2 separate regions of the Homo sapiens genome follow, and region 2 is linked to region 1. Evidence: fine-mapped expression QTL. A gene starts in region 1. The other region holds a variant in brackets. All regions are shown on one strand. Distances are from middle to middle.

Region 1 (5,355 bases):
ACTGGAGAGATGGCCAAGGCTTTAGATTGTCCTGCAGGGGTGACTGAGGGGGCGAGACAGGCTGGGGTGTGCTGGGGGCGCAGGACCAGGAGGCGTGAGCCGGGGGCTCTGGGTGGATTTAGAAGACACAATCAGGTGTGCGTTGGAGTAGGTGCAGCCTGGAGAGGTGAGGGTGGATTGATGGGTGGAGTTAGGGGAGGGCCTGGTTAGTGGGCGGGGCCATAGGAAAGTGGGGCGGGGGTATTTATTGTGTGGGCGGGGGTAGAGTGCAAGGGCGAAAGAGGAGTGTCCGAAAAAGGAGTCAAGTGGGGTGATAGCTTCGAGAGCAACCTGGGCAACCTAGGGAGACCCCATCTCTATAAAAAATTTAAAAATTAGCTGGACATGGTGGTGTGTGCCTGTGGTCTCAGCTACGCGGGCGGGGGGTGGCGGGGGACTGAGACGGGAGGACCACTTGATCGCTAGGGTAGTACAAGTATGGGGCGGGGCCAGAGAGTATTAGGGGCTGGAGGGTGAGCTGAGGTGGGACCTGGGAAAGGCCCGATCCGGTAGCCCTGGCCCCACTCACTGCAGATTCGCGGCGGGTCACACACTGACCCTGCGGGTGCCCGCCGCAAGGTCCCAGCCGGCAGCGGCCTTCGTGGCGGCCGAGTTCCCTGGGGCGGAGCTGCGCGAGGCACATGGAGGCCGCCTGCGCTTCCAGCTGCCGCCGGGAGGGCGCTGCGCCCTGGCGCGCGTCTTTGGAGAGCTGGCGGTGCACGGCGCAGAGCACGGCGTGGAGGACTTTTCCGTGAGCCAGACGATGCTGGAGGAGGTGATCACGGCGCCGGGGTCGGGCTGGGGGAGGCAGGCTGGGGGCCAGGCCCGTGGGCTGACCGTCCCTCTTGTCCCCTCTGGGCTGCCCACCGCTAGGTATTCTTGTACTTCTCCAAGGACCAGGGGAAGGACGAGGACACCGAAGAGCAGAAGGAGGCAGGAGTGGGAGTGGACCCCGCGCCAGGCCTGCAGCACCCCAAACGCGTCAGCCAGTTCCTCGATGACCCTAGCACTGCCGAGACTGTGCTCTGAGCCTCCCTCCCCTGCGGGGCCGCGGGGAGGCCCTGGGAATGGCAAGGGCAAGGTAGAGTGCCTAGGAGCCCTGGACTCAGGCTGGCAGAGGGGCTGGTGCCCTGGAGAAAATAAAGAGAAGGCTGGAGAGAAGCCGTGGTGGTGAAACCGTGTGCATGTGTGTCCTTGAGCCAGGCTGCACACATGTCCACACAGCTGCCTGCACATGCGTCTGGATATGGCTGGCCCCTTGCAAGCTGAGTGTGCACATACGGGCCAAGTGGCGATTCATAGGACACAGGTGTGAGCGTGCCTACAGCTGACCGGATCCCAGCTGTAAATGCCTCTGTGGCCAGCCCAGGAGTTGGGGATGTGAGTGCGGGCCTCATAAGGGCCTGGTCACACCGTCCCTGTCCCCACGTCCCTGCGTGCCTATGTGGGGCTGGCGCCTAAGGGCGGTACCTGTAAGTGCCTGGCCATAAAGTGGGGATGAGGTCAGGACTCAGGAATGTCCTGGGAAGCTTACAGGAGCCCGGTGTCCCGGAGCACAGGCCAGGGCCGGGCCAGAAGCCCATCCGACATCCAGCTGACCCTCACCCTCTGACCCCAGCCCTCAGCGCCATGAGTCGGGGGCAAAGAGTTCTCAAGGGTCTGCTGGGCTGGGTTTGCACTTGGACCTGGGCCTGGAGAGCCAGACTTGGAGCAAGGGGCTGTGGCCTTCATGTCCTGTGCCCCAGAGATCTGCCCCTCCCACCCGAGGTAGGTGGGAATGGGGTTTGGGAAAGGAAAGAGGTTGGGGTTTTGGGATTGGGGGTGGGGTTCTGGAAGGGGACAGCAGGGAGACTTGGGGAGGGGGGAGAGAGTTCACACTGCGGGGTGGGGGTTGGGGGAAGGTAGGAGGCTGGGATCTGTATGCCTGCAGATGCCCCAGCTCTTGGCCAATGCCGCCTCAGGCTGTTATCAGCAACGGGTGCCTGCGTCCTGCTGCCCAGCACGTCCGGTGGTCCAGAGTCACTGGAATGCAGCTTGGGAGGCGGGGCTGGGGACCTTAGCTAAGGGCAGGTCTGGGGCAACATGATATGGCCCACAGGGCTGCTGAGAGGTAACCAGGTGTCCTCAGCATATTCTGCCGATGGTGGGGTCCACACCACACTTTGGGGACCCCTGTGCAGGCAGCCCAGGACCAGGTGGACGTGGGGACCCAGACGGACGTGGGGACCCAGACGGACAGGGCCCGGTAACCTGGATTGTTCTGACTTCCTGGACGTCTTTGCCCCCAGGGTTTCGGTTCTGGGCCTCAGTTTCCCCACCTGTCCTCGACCTGACCCACTTCACGGGGCTGCAGGGCGGGTGATGGGGGGGACCCTACTCTGCCCGGCCCTGCTGGGGCCCGGCCACACCCTAGGGTCTGCAGGAGAGGCGGTGGAGCGGGCTTGCCTTCAGGGAAAAGGGGGCTGCAGGGGCGCAGCTTCGGCCTGTGCGTGTGTCTGGGGTCTGAGGGCGAGGCTCCAGGGGCTTGGTGGCGTCTGAGCGCGTGTGGAGGTCCGGGTCTCTGCGTGTCATCGTGCACGTGTCTGTGCACGCCCACTCGCGTCCGGGAGTGAGAGTCAGCGCCCTGCAGTCGGCCGCCCCGTGCCCGCCAGCGTCAGGCAGGGGCTCCCGGTCCCACCCCGCGAGCGGCGCGGCTCCGAGCTCCCGAAGGCGGAAGCGGGGGGCGCGGCCCGGGGCTGGGGGCGGGGCCTGCGACCTCACCTTCGCGCCCACTCCGCAGAGCCGCAGGCTGAGGCCGGGAAGGGTCGGGGGCGAGGCCGCGTCGCCGCCTCCCCGAAGCCTTTTCCTGTTGGGGGGAGGGCCCGCCAGTGACGGCCGGGCCTGTCACGTGGGCCTGACAGCTGGGGAGGGGGTGGCCGGCGACAATGTGGTCCCGAAGCGGCCAGCGCCGGGAGCTGCAGCGCTGAGACCCCCAGCCCGCCCCCTCGGGCTCCCGGCCGGGGCCCCATCATGTTCTCCAGGAAGAAACGAGAGCTCATGAAAACCCCTTCCATCTCGAAAAAGAACCGCGCGGGAAGCCCCAGCCCGCAGCCCTCGGGGGTGAGTGGAGCCCGGGTGAGACCCGGAGCTGACGCCGGGCCGCAGGGGGACAGGGACCCGCCCTGTGCTCGGGGCTCATGCTGGGGCGGCGGCTGGGGGCTCGTGCCAGCTACAGCCCCTACCGGGCGGGACGGCAGGGGCCACAGCAGAGAGGCCGGGACCCCGGCATTCAGCTCACGGTAGGGACCCTGGGAGTGGTGGCCGCCTCCCTCCACTCCATCCAGGGCTGGCCGCGGGGCCCAGGGAGCAGGAAGGGAGGGTGCCGGGTTGGGACGATGTTGTGTTTGGGCCGCTGCAGGTTGGGGGCTTAGGCAATCTGGGGGCTCTAGGGGCCGTTGAGATGGGAGGGCTGTGGCCTGGCCATTGGGCTGAAGGTTGACCGGGCAGCAGATCCTCTAATGGGATCCACCAGGTTCAGAGGTTGGGGAGTGTCCCCAGGCCTGGGGTGTCTACAAAGCTGGGGGGGGGGTCTACAGAGCTTGGGGGTCCGGGATGTCTACAAGGCCTGGGGCTGCCCATAGGCTCTGGGGTTCCATGGACCTTTAGGGGACAGACAGAGTCAGAAGTGTGTTCACTTAAAGCACCTGCGTTGTAGGAGCCTGAGGGGGGCTTGAAGGGCTGAGGACCCTCCCCACCCCCACCAGGAAGTGGGGACCCCCCTCCCGCGCCTCCCCGCAGGCCCCGCCCCGGCTGTGGTTTGGGCAAGGACCGTTGTTTGTGAAAGCTCTAGGGAAGAGGATGTTGGGTAACAGGTGGGGGGGTACACTACCAAATCTCGGCCCTGTGACCTCTGGCCTTTGACCCCTGTGGGGTCAGGGTGATGGTGGCCCTCCACAGCCCCACTTCATTTCTGGGGAAACTGAGGCCGTGTCCAGGCCGGAAAATCCCTTTAACGAGCTCCCCTCGGACCTGCCCAAGGAGCTGCCCAGGAAGGATGGGGCTGACGCGGTGTTCCCCGGACCAAGCCTGGAGCCGCCCGCTGGGTCCTCCGGCGTCAAGGCCACAGGGACCCTCAAGCGGCCCACCAGCCTGAGCCGCCACGCCAGCGCGGCTGGCTTCCCCCTGTCGGGTGCTGCCTCCTGGACACTGGGCCGGAGCCACCGGAGCCCACTGACAGCCGCCAGCCCGGGCGAGCTGCCCACCGAGGGTGCCGGCCCGGACGTCGTCGAGGACATCTCCCATCTGCTGGCGGACGTGGCCCGCTTCGCTGAGGGCCTTGAGAAACTTAAGGAGTGTGTGTTGCGTGACGGTGAGAGCCACGGGGACACCGAGGCCTGGGTGGAAGACAGAGCCAGACCCAAGGGAGGATGGAGGGAGGGACTTGGGGAGGCTCAGAAGGGAGGGAGGCTCAGATGGCAGGGAGGGCTGTGTGGAAGAGGCCATGACAGCTAAGGCTCTGAGGGATGTGTAGGAGTTTGGTGGGGGAGTCCCTGAGCGTACACTGGCTCAAGAGGGTGCCCACTTTATTTTTTTTAAAGGATCTGATGGCAATTAGGAGGGAAAGGCAGAGGAAATGTCCCATGCACAGGCTCAGAAACACGGAAACAGAGAATGCATTTGGGGGCCAAGGTGTGGGGTGCCGCTGGTGTAGGATGAAGGCATGACAACGCCAGGCAGAAGGGCAATGGGGAGCCATAGAAGGTGTTAGAGCACAGGACAGATGGGGGCAGATCTGTGTCTTGGAATGAAGCAAACTGGGGGTTGGCTGAGGTCTGGGTGGAGAGAGATTCAGGAGGCATGGCGAGGGGCAGGATGGGGTCATCAGGCGGCGGAGGTGCTGGGACCCAGCGGCCTGCAGGCCGGCAGTTCCGTTTTCTCCTCCACGCGGCCGCTGACAGCCCTGCTTCCTGCCGAGTTATTTTCATCTGCTTCCTGTTTGTCCCTGGCAGCCCAGGCGGGCACCTCATGTGCTGCCTTCAGCCCCCGGCTCCTCCCAGAAACCACAGTGCCAGGGTCATGCCAGGCGCTCTGATCTGCTCCCAGCAGCCGCCCATTTTACAGATGACGAAACTAAGTCTCTAGTGAGGCCCTGACCCCTGGCTCACCCAGCCAGGGCAGGGCAGAGCCAGGACTGGACCTCAAGTGGTGGAGTGGCCTCTGCACCTTCAGGGCACTAGTTGGGGAAGGCCCGGTCCCCACTGGGAGGAGTGGGAGCCCCCGGGTTATCTGGTCCCAGGGGCGGGGGCTAGGCTGCTTTCCTGGGGAAACCCTAATCTC
Region 2 (5,355 bases), 21 kb after region 1:
CCATCAGATCTTGTGAAACCCACGTACTATCATGAGAACAGCCCAGGAAAGACGCACCTCCAGGATTCAACCATCCTCCACCAGCTCCCTCCCACAACACGTGGGAATTATGGGAGCTACAAGATGAGGTTTGGGTGGGGACACAGAGCCAGACCCTATCAACACCTCTCTCCTTCCGTTTCTCCCCTTGTCTCTCTCTCCTCCTCCCCGCCATGTCTCTCCATCTGTCTGTCCCTCCCCTTGTCTCTCCTCCATCTCTCCTGTCTCTCCCCATCTCTCCTGTCTCTCCATCTCTCTCCCCCCTCTCCTGTCTCTCCCCATCTCTCCTGTCTGTCCCTCCCCTTGTCTCTCCTCCATCTCTCCTGTCTGTCTCCCCCCGCCATCTGTCTCCCTTTCTTAGAATCCCGAGTTGTGTCCAACGATTCGGACTCGGACCTAGAGGAGGCCTCCGAGCTGCTGTCCTCATCGGAGGCCAGTGCCCTGGGCCACCTCAGCTTCCTGGAGCAGCAGCAGAGCGAGGCCAGCCTAGAGGTGGCTTCTGGCAGCCACAGCGGCAGTGAGGAGCAGCTGGAGGCCACAGCCCGGGAGGACGGGGACGGGGACGAGGACGGCCCGGCCCAGCAGCTCTCAGGATTCAACACCAACCAGTCCAACAACGTGCTGCAGGCCCCACTGCCCCCCATGAGGCTCCGTGGCGGGCGGATGACACTGGGCTCCTGCAGGGAAAGGCAGCCGGAATTCGTGTGAGCTGGGGTGGGGCTGGGACCACAGGTGGCTTCTCTCTTGCCTGCTCCTGTCCCTCCAGCACGTCCCCTGCACCACGGCATAGCTTAGGTGCGCCGTCCTGGGGTCGCTGCCGAGAGCGCCTGGACTTCGACGTCCCACCAGCGGGCGCCTCCTCCCAGAGGCTTCCAGGAGCACGAGGGCCTTGCGGCACAGGACTGTGCCCTGTGCTGTCCCCTGCACCCCGGCTCAGCTGAGCTGGGGAACACTGCTGTCGTGTGAAGTCACAGTGGCCTTGTTGGTGCCCACAGGGCTGTGTGGATGGAGGAAGCTGTCCCTGCCCAGTGCATCCCCCAGGTCATCACGGGGACGCAGGAGGCAGGCCCTGCCCTGCCCTCTCCTCACAGGTCTGTTGCAGGGACTCCAGAAACCATTCTGGGAGCCGTGGATGGGGGCGGAGCTGGGGTTTGGTGCAGTTTCCAGGGTGCAGTACAGCAGGGCCTGAATACTGGCCCTGGACTCCCTTTTCCAGAACACCAGGTGTGGCCACCTGGGGCTCAGGTACACAGTGGGGTCTCTCGGAAGCCACCGTGTGGTTCTTTCACAGGCACGTTTATTTTGCTGAAATAAAAAGTTTTTAATCGGGTGTTTTCTGTGGCAGCTGCAAGCTTAGAAGATTTTCTGTGGCAGCTGCAAGCTTAGAAGAAGGGGCCAGGGAGGGGACAGAGAGAGCCCCGTGGCGTGGCCCTGGGCCTCCCCCTAGGGGAGGGATGTGTGAGGAAGGGAACCCCCCGCCACGGGGCCCCGCGAGGTGGGAGCCCGGGTGGTCTTCACCACAGGCTGTGCAGACGGTCAGGCATCGAATGACCTCGTCACGTCCACCTGCAGCCCAGGGCAGTCCAGGAAAACGTTCTCGATGACGGACGTATCCCCCGGCTCTAAGGTTTCGCACGTCAGCCCCACATGGCCACCAAGCACTGGAAACGTGGCCCATGCGCCTGTGGAACTGCATTTTTTTTTTTTTTTGAGACAGGGTGTGACCCTGTGGCCCAGGCTGGAGTACAGGAGCACAATCGTAGCTCACTGCAGCCTCGGCCTCCTGGGCTCAAATGATCCTCCCGCCTCAGCCTCCCAAAGTGTTGGGATTACAGGTGTGAGCCACTGTGCCCAGGTAATCTTAAAGTTTTTTGTAGAGGTGGGGGGTTTCTCTGTGTTGCCCGGGCTGGTCTTTTAACTCCTGAGCTCAAGCGATCCTCCACTTCCTGGGTTCAAGTGATTCTCCTGCCTTAGCTCCCAAGTAGCTGGGATTACAGGCATGCACCACCACGCCCAGGTAATTTTTGTATTTTTTGCAGTGATGGGATTTTGCCATGTTGGTCAGGCTGGTCTCGAACTCCCGACCTCAGGTGATCCGCCCACCTCGGCCTCCCAAAGTGCTGGGATTACAGGCGTGAGCCACCGCGCCCGGCCACCTCCAGAATTTTCTCATCTTCCCAAACTAAAACTGTGCACATGACACACTCTGTCCCCTCCCTCCTCCCCAGCCCTGGGAACCCCCATCCCCACCCAACTCCCCAGTCCCGGGAACCCCCATCCTACTTCCAGTCTCTGACGACTCTAGTGACCTCCTAGGAGTGACATCAGTGTTTGTCCCTTTGGGTCTGGCTTGCTTTGGCCAAGACAATTTTGAAAAAAGTACATTTGGAGAGAAGGGGAAGCACTGTCCCCATCACACACACAGTCCGCGGCCTGGGGATCTGGGGACCCTGCTGCACAGAACAGTGGGCGCGTTACAGACCACCGACCGCCCGAGGGTGAATTACATCTTAATAAAGCTACTGTGAGAGAACCACGTGGCTAGGTTAAACTTGGGCAGGCGAGGCCTTCTGAAATCAGACAGTAAGCAAACGGGGAAGTAGAGCCAGATCCCAAACGTCTGTAAGAGGAACTGGCCGCAAACCACAGCTGCACAAGCCAGAGAACAACTCCACACCCTCACGGGAAGGGAAGAGACAGACACGCTCACGCCTTACCCAGGAGCACGAAGTGGGAGGGCAGGGCGAGGGCCTGGGGAGACACTGACCCCTGAAGCCAGCGCGAGGAGGGCACACCTGCCAGGCTGACCTCGTGTGCTTGGGGTGAGGCAAGGCCACCTGCTGGAAACCTTGTTAGTCGGCCTGGTTTCTGTATCAAGCAAATTTATTTGCTCAAAACATCTTTACCATTTGAAAACACCCAACCTCCTACAACAACCGAGAACTCCAGAGCTGGCATCTCGCACCCTGGTGGCTTGAGCGCGTGCA[T/C]GGCTGTGAATGGAGTAAAGAGCCGAGGCCGGGCGGGGGCCGCCACGCATCAGGGCCCCCGAGGGAGGGAAGACGAGGGGTGGAAGGCCGAGGGCCCAGGAGGAAGCAGTGGCTGGTGGGAGACCCGGACCCCAAACCCCCAACAGAGGGGACCCAGCGTGGTCTGGGTGAAGACCCGGCACCAGCTGCCCCCAGGTGACCTCCCTCTGGGGGCCTTGTTCCTTCTGAGGCTGCATCTCGCACAAATCCACAGGTGAATGGGGCGGGCTGGGCCACAGGAAGCCTCACCCCAGGACGGGAGAACGTGGGTGGAGGCCACCTGCCTTGGGGAGTCCAGAGGAGCAGCAGCCGTGAGAGCTGTGGGGGCCGGATTCTGGCAGGGCAGGGGCGTTTGTCCTGCAGGGATGGGGGTCGCTGTGTGTCCGCCTCTAGGGGCTAGGAAAGGGGGAGAGTGGTCACACGACAGGGGCAGATCCAGTATGCCCAGGACAGCACAACGCCCACCGAACGTGACGGGGTGCGGGAGGCCTGGCAGGAGGCGGCCCAGGCCGCAGTGCAGAGGCCGGACGGCTCCCTTGTGCCCAGCGGTCACACAGGCGTGGGCAGTAGCTCTGACCTCAAAGGAACCGTGCCAGCGTCAGACCAGGCCAAGCCCCACCCCTGGGCTGAGTGTGAAGTGGGGCGGCCTGCAGGACAGCAGCTCGCCATGACCAGAGTCCAGGGGAAGCTGGGAGGCTCTCGCCATGGGCAGAGGCTGTCCCGCTCCTGAGACTCCGGCCAGTCCCTCCCAAGGTGCCCACTCAGGGAAGGGTTGGCCTGAAGCTGTGCCTCCTCTCTCAGCTCTGGGGTCTCTGGGCAGGTTTCTAAACCCTCTTCTGGAAAGTCCCGCCGCACAACTGCCCTGCAGGTGAACGTCTCCTGCTTCTAAGGTGGGTCAGCGGCGGAGAGACGCACGCCCCGCGTACCAGGACTCTCCCGTCCAGGCGCACAGCCCCAAGAGCTGCAGCCTACGGTCGGGTGGGGTCTGGGGGTCTGGGGGTGTCCTGGGAGCGCCTGGTGGCCCAGCTGGGCTGGTGCTAGGAGGGTCTTGCTGCCGGACAAAGCAAGAACAGCCCTGCACACCGACGGAGGGGACGACACCCCTGCCTCTGACCCCACCTCAGTGCCTGTCCCTCGGCCGTCTCACCTGTCAGGCGGTAGCTACTGCACCAGCCGGTAGGTGATGTACCTGCCAGCCGTCTCACTGGGCCGGATGATCTTCACCACCTGCAGAGACAGAGAGCAGGGGCTGCGAATGCTTGAGGGGTCTCACTGCAGTCACCAGACAGCAGGCGGGCAGCACACGGGCTGGGGATGGCCGGCAGGGGTCCGAGATGGCTGACCCTGGGCTGTGGGACCCGCTCCCTGGGAACCTGGGTCACGCTCTTCTCTGGGCCCAGTGGCCCTGGCTTTAAGAGGGGGATATTGGGGGTGTGGTCTCGAGGTCCCCTCCAGGCCCTGGATCAAGGGGGAGGGGCTGTCGGGGAGGGACAGAAGCCCCCTTCTCCGAGTGGTCAGCTCAGAGCAGCCCCAGGGCCCCTTCTCCCCACAGGGCTCACCTGCCCACGCTTTATCCCAAAGTAGCGCGCCACAGGGTCCCCCGCCTGGATCCTGGGCAGCTGGTTCTCTCGGAGCTTACTGCGAAGCACCGTCAGGAAAATGCCAGACAGGGCCGTTGGGGGGGCAGGGGTGTGTGTGGGGGGGGAACGCGGAAGTCTCGAGGGACAGGGAGGGGCGGGGCCGGTGGGGCTGGAAAGGATACTATCGGGCCAGCAGCTCTGTCACCTCCTCCTTGGTCATGACGACGTGCTCAGGGACTAGCTGCCGAGAGAGGAAGCCACCAGGCATCACCAAGGGCTGGTGAGACCCCACGTGGCTCCCAGGTGCCACCACAGCCCCTGCGCCTTCAGACGGACAAGAGCCCTGAACCCCACCCCGATCCCCGGCACTCAGGGAGCCCACCCACCCCACCCTGGCTCCACAGGCGGGGGACGGAGTCACAGCTCCTGGGGCTTCTGAGGCAGACGGGCTGGGCACAGCCACCTCCTGCTGGGACTCCTCCTGTCCCAGCACTAGGGTCCCTCCACACTCCCAGCAGTCCCGATTCTACAGGCTGGGGTGGGCCCGGGATCTGCATTTTTTTTTTTTTTTTTTTTTTTGAGATGGAGTCTTGCTCTGTCTCCCAGGCTGGAGTGCAGTGGCACAATCTCGGCTCCCCGAGTAGCTGGGACTACAGGCGCTCGCCACCACGCCTGGCTAATTTTTTTGTATTTTTAGTAGAGACGGGGTT

Evidence for each region. PIP is the estimated chance that this variant, and not a neighbour inherited with it, causes the effect.
Region 2: its variant is the best candidate, but not a certain one, in a credible set for the expression of ARHGAP45 in fibroblasts (GTEx, PIP 0.68).

The regions. Positions count from the first base shown.
Region 1 is chr19:1,064,358-1,069,712 of GRCh38, forward strand. ARHGAP45 (Rho GTPase activating protein 45) reads left to right here and starts at 2,810. Exons shown (of 23, transcript NM_012292.5): 1 at 2,810-3,138; 2 at 4,057-4,387. The coding sequence starts at 3,049. It overlaps ABCA7 (ATP binding cassette subfamily A member 7), which reads left to right. Exons shown (of 47, transcript NM_019112.4): 46 at 574-814; 47 at 913-1,215. The coding sequence ends at 1,068. RefSeq lists silencers at 730-779, 2,620-3,379, 3,690-3,929, 4,460-4,559 and enhancers at 2,253-2,759, 4,950-5,109.
Region 2 is chr19:1,085,260-1,090,614 of GRCh38, forward strand. ARHGAP45 (Rho GTPase activating protein 45) reads left to right here. Exons shown (of 23, transcript NM_012292.5): 23 at 401-1,369. The coding sequence ends at 747. POLR2E (RNA polymerase II, I and III subunit E) reads right to left here. Exons shown (of 8, transcript NM_002695.5): 5 at 4,828-4,886; 6 at 4,625-4,703; 7 at 4,213-4,292; 8 at 1,315-3,461. The coding sequence ends at 4,227. Among named protein-coding and RNA genes, the nearest start is that of POLR2E, 7.4 kb to the right of the region's middle. RefSeq lists enhancers at 631-1,130, 3,697-3,796. The variant T/C (reference allele first, on the strand shown) is at 3,027.